2 linked regions of the Homo sapiens genome follow. The protein of the gene in region 2 interacts with the protein of the main gene of each other region in a pairwise test. Each region holds a gene or a part of one and is shown on either strand. Other genes may lie near its edges.

Region 1 (3,750 bases), on a different chromosome or scaffold from region 2:
ATATTTATAGGAGCTGTTTACTTGGACATATTTTTATTATTTCTACTCATTTGCTAAGTACTTTCCAACGCATATTTATGAAGCACAGGCCTTTCCCCAAACAGTTGTGAAAAAATAAATCATATTATTTCTTTTATTAGTAGCAGCACGGCTTGGAAGTCCTAGTGCCCTGATTTTAGTTATTTCTGGCAAGAGCTGGAAGAATTAATAGTGACCGACCACCTACTATGTGCCAGACTCTCTGTGAAAGGCACTTTACATAAATTATCTGTTTAATTCCCCTGAGGCATATATTTTACCAACAAAGAATGTAATTCCCCTGCAACATACACTTTACCAGTAGGACAGAGACATTACCTTGTCCAAGTAACTCGGCCAGAAAGGGACTAGCAGGGTTTTGAACTTAGATCTTTTTCCTGATTCCAAAATCCCAAATCACCATTCCATTTCACCAGCACCCCTACCAACCTCTCTGGATCTAATAGCTTCTGTAAAATATAAAGTGTTTTTTGTTTTGTTTTGTTTTTTTAATGAGAGAGGATGTGTAGGTTACTGAGAATGGAACAGTTAGAGATAAACATACACAGGGTGCTAACCCTAATTTTTCTATGGGAGGTTACTCTTCAAGGGATTTACTCCCTAAGAAATCAATGGAAGGATGTTTCCCAAAGAGAAGGGCCAGTACTAGTGCTGGATCCATTCCTGGAGACAGAACTGGCTACACTGTTTGCAAGAAACAGTGCAAAATATGGGATGCTTGTTTAAAAATTAAGAACTTCAAGATGGCAACAGCAGAGCATTAAACTAAGTGCAGAGCCCTGCTAAGCATGGGGCTGTGTGACTGCACTGGTCATACCACCATGTAGCTGGGCCTGCCTGGACAGAAGAAAGCTGTCATCAGTATCCCCCATGCATCATAAGCTTATTCATAATATGAGATTGAGTGCCTATATCATGCCTGGAAAACTATTCAGTGTTTTACATAAGTTACATGATCCTAAAACAACTCTATGAAACAGATATTATTTTTCCCATTTCACGGTGGATGAAACTAAGGCTTAAAGAGACTGTTATTCATCCATTGTTATATGGCAAGTAAATGTCAAAGCTAGGACCAAGTTAGTTGAGATATAAAAAATCCTGTTCCTTGACTTTGTATCTTTGTCAGCACAGGCCCATTGTTTTCCTACAAAACTCAAACTTAAGCTGAGGCTATTATACCAAAAACTATAGAGAGGCCAAGGAAGAGCAGAGATTCAAGGGCTACTCAAAAAGTCAAATGTGCAGCAGCTGAAGTGCAGCCGTACAGCTCCAGGGCATGAGGACCTGGCAGAGAGAACTCCATCATTCATGGCAAATGTCATGGCCAATACCCAGACTCCTCCAAGACTGAAGGGTAACCCAGTGAGGTCTTTCATAAAGAGCAGCTACGTGGAACCTAAGGCATCTAACTCAGTAAAATATTGTAAATAGTCCACTAAAGTTAGGAACAAGACAAGGATGATTGTTATTGTTGCTTCTATTCTGTGTAGTACTAAAAGTCAGTTTAGCCAGTGCAATAGGACAAGAAAAAAATGATAGAAAGCATTCAGGATCACTTTGGATTAATAATATACCTAACTCTAATTTAAGGTCTATGCATCACAGAGCCTTCTCCAATGCCAAACCCCAGCACACAGAACTAGACAGTTTAAACCTTACCCAGTGCTTGCTTCAGCAGCACATACACTAAAATTGGAACAATACAAAGATGATTAGCATGGCCCCTGAAATAAATTAAAATATAAATAAATCCTGCCCAGACAACTGCATGGCAGAACACAGCAAAAACCTAGTAGGATATACATCTAAATCCCTTATCTCCCCCTGCTTCACATCTCAGGGATGCATAGGCCCTGTTTTGTTTTGTTTTTTTGAGATGGAGTCTTGTTCCGTCACCCAGACTGGAGTGCAGTAGTGTGATCTTGGCTCACTGCAACTTCCACCACCCGGGTTCAAGCGATTCTCCTGCCTCAGCCTTCTGAGTAGCTGGAACTACAGGCACCCGCCACCACGCCCGGCTAATTTTTGTATTTTTAGTAGAAATGGGGTTTCGCCATGTTGGCCAAGCTGGTCTCGAACTTCTGATTTCAAATGATCCACCCACCTCAGCCTCCCAGAGCGCTGAGATGACAGGCGTGAGCCACCACGCTCAGCCAGCCCTGCTGTTTTTTATTCAGCTTTATTTCCCCCTAAACCTCCAGTTCTCTTTAATACTAATGATATCTGCCTTCTCCAAGTTTTTGTCATTCTTTTGTAACTTCCCTGGGGGAAATCAGAAAGAGCTGAGAAGTAGATCTCTGATCCCGCTTTTTATGGTGAGCTAAGCTGAAAAGAGGTTGGGATGTGCAGCCCCTGCTGCTATCAGGGCAAAGTATGAAAAAGAATTTTGTGGAAACATTTACATATTTACAGCAGAAGGCAGCGTGCAGATGGGAAAAAATGGGTTTGGTATCAGGCAGACATGTGTCTGGATTCCCGTGCTGCCACTTATTAGCTTTATGTCCTTAACCTCACTGAGATCCCATTTACTGTCTATTAAATGGAATCATTCCCTCTGCCACAAGGCTGTCCTAAGGTCATAATGAGACATGCATCAAGGGCCTAAGGATACATAATAGAGCCTTGATTAACTCGTCTTTGGTACTACCGTAAGTACTAGTGAGAGGCTGCCCACCCAGCATCCAGTTCATCCACACACTCTCCTTTCTAGTAGAAAGGAGAACTCCCATTTTTCTTTCAGTGGCTCCAGCATGTGCTTCAGGAAAGCCTGTCCCCAGCCTCAGCTCCAGGGCTATTTCCTAGTTGGTTTGAGTCAATCACAGCAGTCCCTTTTTCTTGCCAGTTACTGTATTACACATGGGTGTATGAAGCAATTCTGCACCAATGAGATTTGAGGTGAGTCAGCTTTGGTTGGAAGTTAGTTCTGAGTTAGTCCTTTGTTAAATTAAATTTGGGGTCGGGTGTGGTGTCTCACGCCTGTAATCCAGGCACTTTGGGAGGCAGAGGCAGGTGAATCACCTGAGGTCAGGAGTTTGAGACCAGTCTGGCCAACATGGTGAAACCCCATCTCTACTAAAAATACAAAAAGAGCCGGGGATGGGGGCGCATGCTTGTAATCCCAGCTACTCGGGAGGCTGCGGCAGAATTGCTTGAACCCAGGAAGCAGAGGTTGCAGTGAGCCAAGATCATGCCACTGCACTCCAGCCTAGGTGACAGAGACTCCGTCTCAAACAAACAAACAAAAGCTAAATTTGGCCTGAGGGCTAGTCACAGTGGGTCATGCCTATAATCCCAGTTCTTTGGGAGGCTGAGGCAGGCAGATCATCTGAGGTCAGGAGTTCGAGACCAGCCATGGCCAACATGATGAAACCCCATCTCTACTAAAAATACAAAAAATTAGCCGGACATAGTGGCAGGCGCCTGTAGTCGTAGTCCCAGCTACTCAGGAGGCTGAGGCAGGAGAATCACTTGAACCCGGGAGGCAGAGGTGCAGTGAGCTGAGATCACGCCACTGCACTCCAGCCTGAGCAAGAGCAAGACTCCATCTCAAAAAGAAAAAAAAAATTGACCTGAGGAGGCTTTACTTGGGCCCTTAACAAACTGCAGCCTTAGTATGCAAACTAACTGAAAACCTAATTTAGGAGTATACTTTTGTAACAGATTGCTGAGGCTCAGCCAATCACATCATCAGCTTCAGTGGGTTCCAGG
Region 2 (3,750 bases):
CCAACAGCAGAAAGCCCCAGCATTGTGCAGGCACAGCGGTGCGGGGGAAGGCTTGCGCTTACCTAGGAGGTCGGCCCCTTCGTCCACATCCCCGATGACCTCAGACCCTGCCGTCGACAGCTCATGGTACAGGGAGTCGGTGTTGATGCCGAAAGCTTTGTTCACGATGCCCTGGGTTGGGCTGTTGGGATCCACAGGTCGGGAGAGAGAGCAGAGTCAGTGGGCAGCCCGGAGTGGCTGCGTCTGCAGACTCTTCCAACACCTCCCACCGTGGCCATTCAATGCCCACACTGCCCTGCAGGCCGGTCGTGGATGGAGGCGGTAGGCCACAGCCTTGATGGTTCTCCCAGTGGTGGCAGAGGAAGACTTCACCAAAGACACCGACTTGGATAAATACTGAGCCCCCAGGACCCCAGGGCCTGGGCTGAGCCAGTACCTGCTTCCTGTGCGGTCCAGGCGGGTCTCTGGACACATGTCCAGCTCTGGCGTGGAGTCAATAATGTCTTGAACATCAGACCACTCGTCACTGCTGCCCATGCCTAGGGGAGAGCACAGGGGCACCTGGGGTCAGGAGAGGGTCTGGCAGCCTCTGCCCTGCTCACGGCTGCCCTCGGAACCTGAGTCTGGTGGGCTGGAGCTGGACCACCTGCTAGGTGGGGATGATCAGAAAACAGCTCTTCCCAGGCTGACTGGGCAGAGGTCGAACCCCAGCACAGTAGACGTCTGAGGCGGGGCCTGGAGCGGGGTGGGTTGCAGCAGCCTCTCTGCATGGGAGTGTCAGCAGTAAGCCCAGTCCCCAGAGATCCCACGTCCAAGCAAGCCAGTGGCTGGACCTCCTCTCGGCCCTCATTCCCCTCTTCTCTTTCCCTCACTGGCCTGTGTGCCGTGGGGCAACGCAGGTTACTGGTTAGTGGGGCTGTGTGCCATGGGGTGACGTAGGCTACTGGTTAGTGGGACTGTGTGCCGTGGGGCGATGCAGGTTACTGGTTAGTGGGGCTGTGTGCCGTGGGGCGATGCAGGTTACTGGTTAGTGGGGCTGTGTGCCGTGGGGCGATGCAGGTTACTGGTTAGTGGGGCTGTGTGCCGTGGGGTGACGCAGGCTACTGCCTTAGTTGTGTCTCCCCAAATCCATATGTTAATAGATACCCCCTAGCATGACTGTATTTGGAGGCTGGGCCTTTCAAGAGGTGATTATGGTAAAATGAGGTCACGTGGTGGCTCTAATCCAATGGGGCTATGTCCTTGTAGGAGCTGGAGATGAGGACACAGACACACCCAGGGGATGCCTGTTGAGGACACAGGGAGAAGGTGGTGTCTACAAGCCAAGGAGTGGCCGCAGGAGGAACCTACCCTGCCAGCGCCTTGATCTTGGACCCCAGCCTCCGGGCTGTGAGGAACACGTCTCTGCTGCCTGCACTGCCCGCCTGGTGCATTAGTTTCACATCTACCCAAACCAAGCCCTGCCTCCTGCCCGAGGGAGCCCAGAGTCCCGGAGGTGGGCACCCACCTATACTGACGTTGCGCATCTCCTGGGTGACCTGTACTTCCATGTTGCGGCTGTCGCGCTTCTCCCGGGCACGCTTGCTGTTCTTGGAGCCCACGCCATAGTCCCCCAGGGGCTGCAGGCTCTCGTTGAGGGGTGTGACGGCGGCCGAGGGCACGGAGGATGTGGGCGTGTTGGACTTGGTGCCTGTGGTGCTGGGTGTGGCGGCCGCCGAGGACTGGCCTGACTCGGACATTTCATCCTGTGGACACTAAGGCCAAACACAGGGAGGAGGGAGAGCGAGTCACTGCAGGTCCCTGGCCTGCGGCTCCGCCGTGGCTGCCTGAGGCCCCGCGCACCAATGCTTTGCACTTTGCCTCGCCCGACACCCTGCGGGCCAGAGCTCCTCTGCCGCCCACCGGGCTAACCCTTCCGGGCCTCACCACTCCCGAGTGGCTCTGCTTATCCGGCCACTGACTCCGGCTCCTCGGAAGCAGGGCCACCCTCCTGAAATGGCTTGGAACGGGGCTTTCCACTGGTGCCCTCCCCAGACGATTGCTTGTAATGGGCCAGTGCCTCGCCAGGGACACAGCGGCAGCCCCCTGTAGCTTGTGGCTGTTCAGAAACAAGTCCAGCCCAGGTAGGGCAGAGGGCTCTGACTGGGGACCCAAGAAGGGCTGGCTGTGCCGCCACCGCTGCCCCGTCACCATCACTGTGCTGAAGAGCTCGAGGCTGGGCCCACCCGCGCCTGCCCCACGTTCCTCCCCGGGCTCAGGTCAGGGCCAGGGAGTGACCAGAAGGTGCTGACCCTGTGGCTTGACTGGACCAGAGCTCACCCCTGAACATGAGCAAGCGCAAAGAAACCACAATCCCTGCTCACAGAAAGGGACGCCACCAAGACATTCTGGAGGGTGGGGGCAGCCCGGATTACGAGAAACCGCAACCAGCCGTCTACCTCAGGAAGCTCGCTAGGGAGGAGCGCATTCTATGTGACTAATGCGGAATGCGAAACAAACATTCTTTCCAATGGTCTTTCCTAACAAAGATACTGAACCAGCTGGAGAAAAAGAGCCCCAAACGTTCTCGTCTTAGCTGACCTGATCACCCGCTATGGCAGAGCTTGCCCGTGGCCCCCGGCCCTCCTTGAGGTGTGGGAAAGTGCAAGGCCTCAGAGGCACCCAGGTGGCTCCTGTGCCTGTCCCAGGCAGCCGCTGGGTGGGTTCCCGTGGTCTCTCAGAGGGCGCACCGTGGGGGACTCTAATGCTAAGGATCTCACCCAGGGAGGAGCTGTCGAGGGGGTATCCAGCCCTCTCCACAGCTGACTTATACTGGCCTTTAAGTGACCAGGGCAGACGGGACTTCCAGAAGTCATGGCCAGTGCTGACCTCTGCCTCTGCCCAGCCTCTCTGGTCACCGCCAGACTCAGGGCACGGGGCCTCTCAGTACCGGACACGGCCACTCACTCAGAGGACACATTTCTGCTTCATCTACCAGGCTCCTAAGTTTCTCTAGAAGGAATCTCAAAATGACACACCTTCCTCTATAGTAGCTATTCTCAGTTGGGCTGACTGCCCCGAGGGGATGCTTGCAAAGTCCAGAGACATTTTTGTGGTCACAAATGAAGGGGGTGCTCCTGGCTTTCGTGGGTGGAAGCCAGGGATGCTGCTCCACACCCACCGCGTCCCAGCGGCCCAGGCCATGCATGTCCAGCCCCAAAAGATGAGCAGTGCCGAGGGAGAGCCCTCACACGGGCGCAGCCCGCCTCCCGGAGTGGCTTTGTAGAAATGTCTGAGACGGCCTGTGGCTCTGCAGCTATGCCCAGTTTGAAAGGAAAACCCTTGCTCTTCATGTCACTCCCCACGCTGGAGGAAGCGAGTACCGCTCATGCAAGAAGTCTGTGCTGACGTTCTCAAAGAACCTGTCTACCCAATGTGTCACAGGCACCTGGTGTCTCACCGACTCTGCCACCACCCGGCAGAGAGAAAACAGGGAACCCCATGTGGCCAGGCAGGGTGTAGCTGTGCACATCAGACAAACGCTTCTGGGCCACCTTCCTCCACGCTGGGTCCCCGGCCTGCTCCTGACCCTCATGGTGGCTGCGGGGAATTCTGCAGTCTGATTGCGCCTCCCCTAGCTCTCCGTCACCCTACAGGGCCACCACTTACCCATGGGACACTCCCCCTGGCCACAACTTACCTAAAGGCAAACCTCTCAACCTCCTAAACATCAACGTGTAGCAGTGACCTCCAAATGCACTGAAAGAACCC

Evidence for each region. The genes of interacting proteins can lie anywhere in the genome.
Region 1: the proteins of MAPK8IP3 (region 2) and RAD51D interact in binary tests that used the Homo sapiens proteins (3 or more experiments, as listed by UniProt).

The regions. Positions count from the first base shown.
Region 1 is NC_000017.11:35,092,205-35,095,954, forward strand, and holds the end of RAD51D (DNA repair protein RAD51 homolog 4), read right to left. Parts: 3' UTR 17-3,750; downstream 1-16. UniProt on the Homo sapiens protein: Involved in the homologous recombination repair (HRR) pathway of double-stranded DNA breaks arising during DNA replication or induced by DNA-damaging agents. Bind to single-stranded DNA (ssDNA) and has DNA-dependent ATPase activity.
Region 2 is NC_000016.10:1,745,033-1,748,782, reverse strand, and holds part of MAPK8IP3 (C-Jun-amino-terminal kinase-interacting protein 3), read right to left. Parts: exon of another isoform or gene 2,194-3,750; coding exon of another isoform or gene 1,927-2,193; intron 1,755-1,926; coding exon 1,508-1,754; intron 540-1,507; coding exon 437-539; intron 182-436; coding exon 63-181; intron 1-62.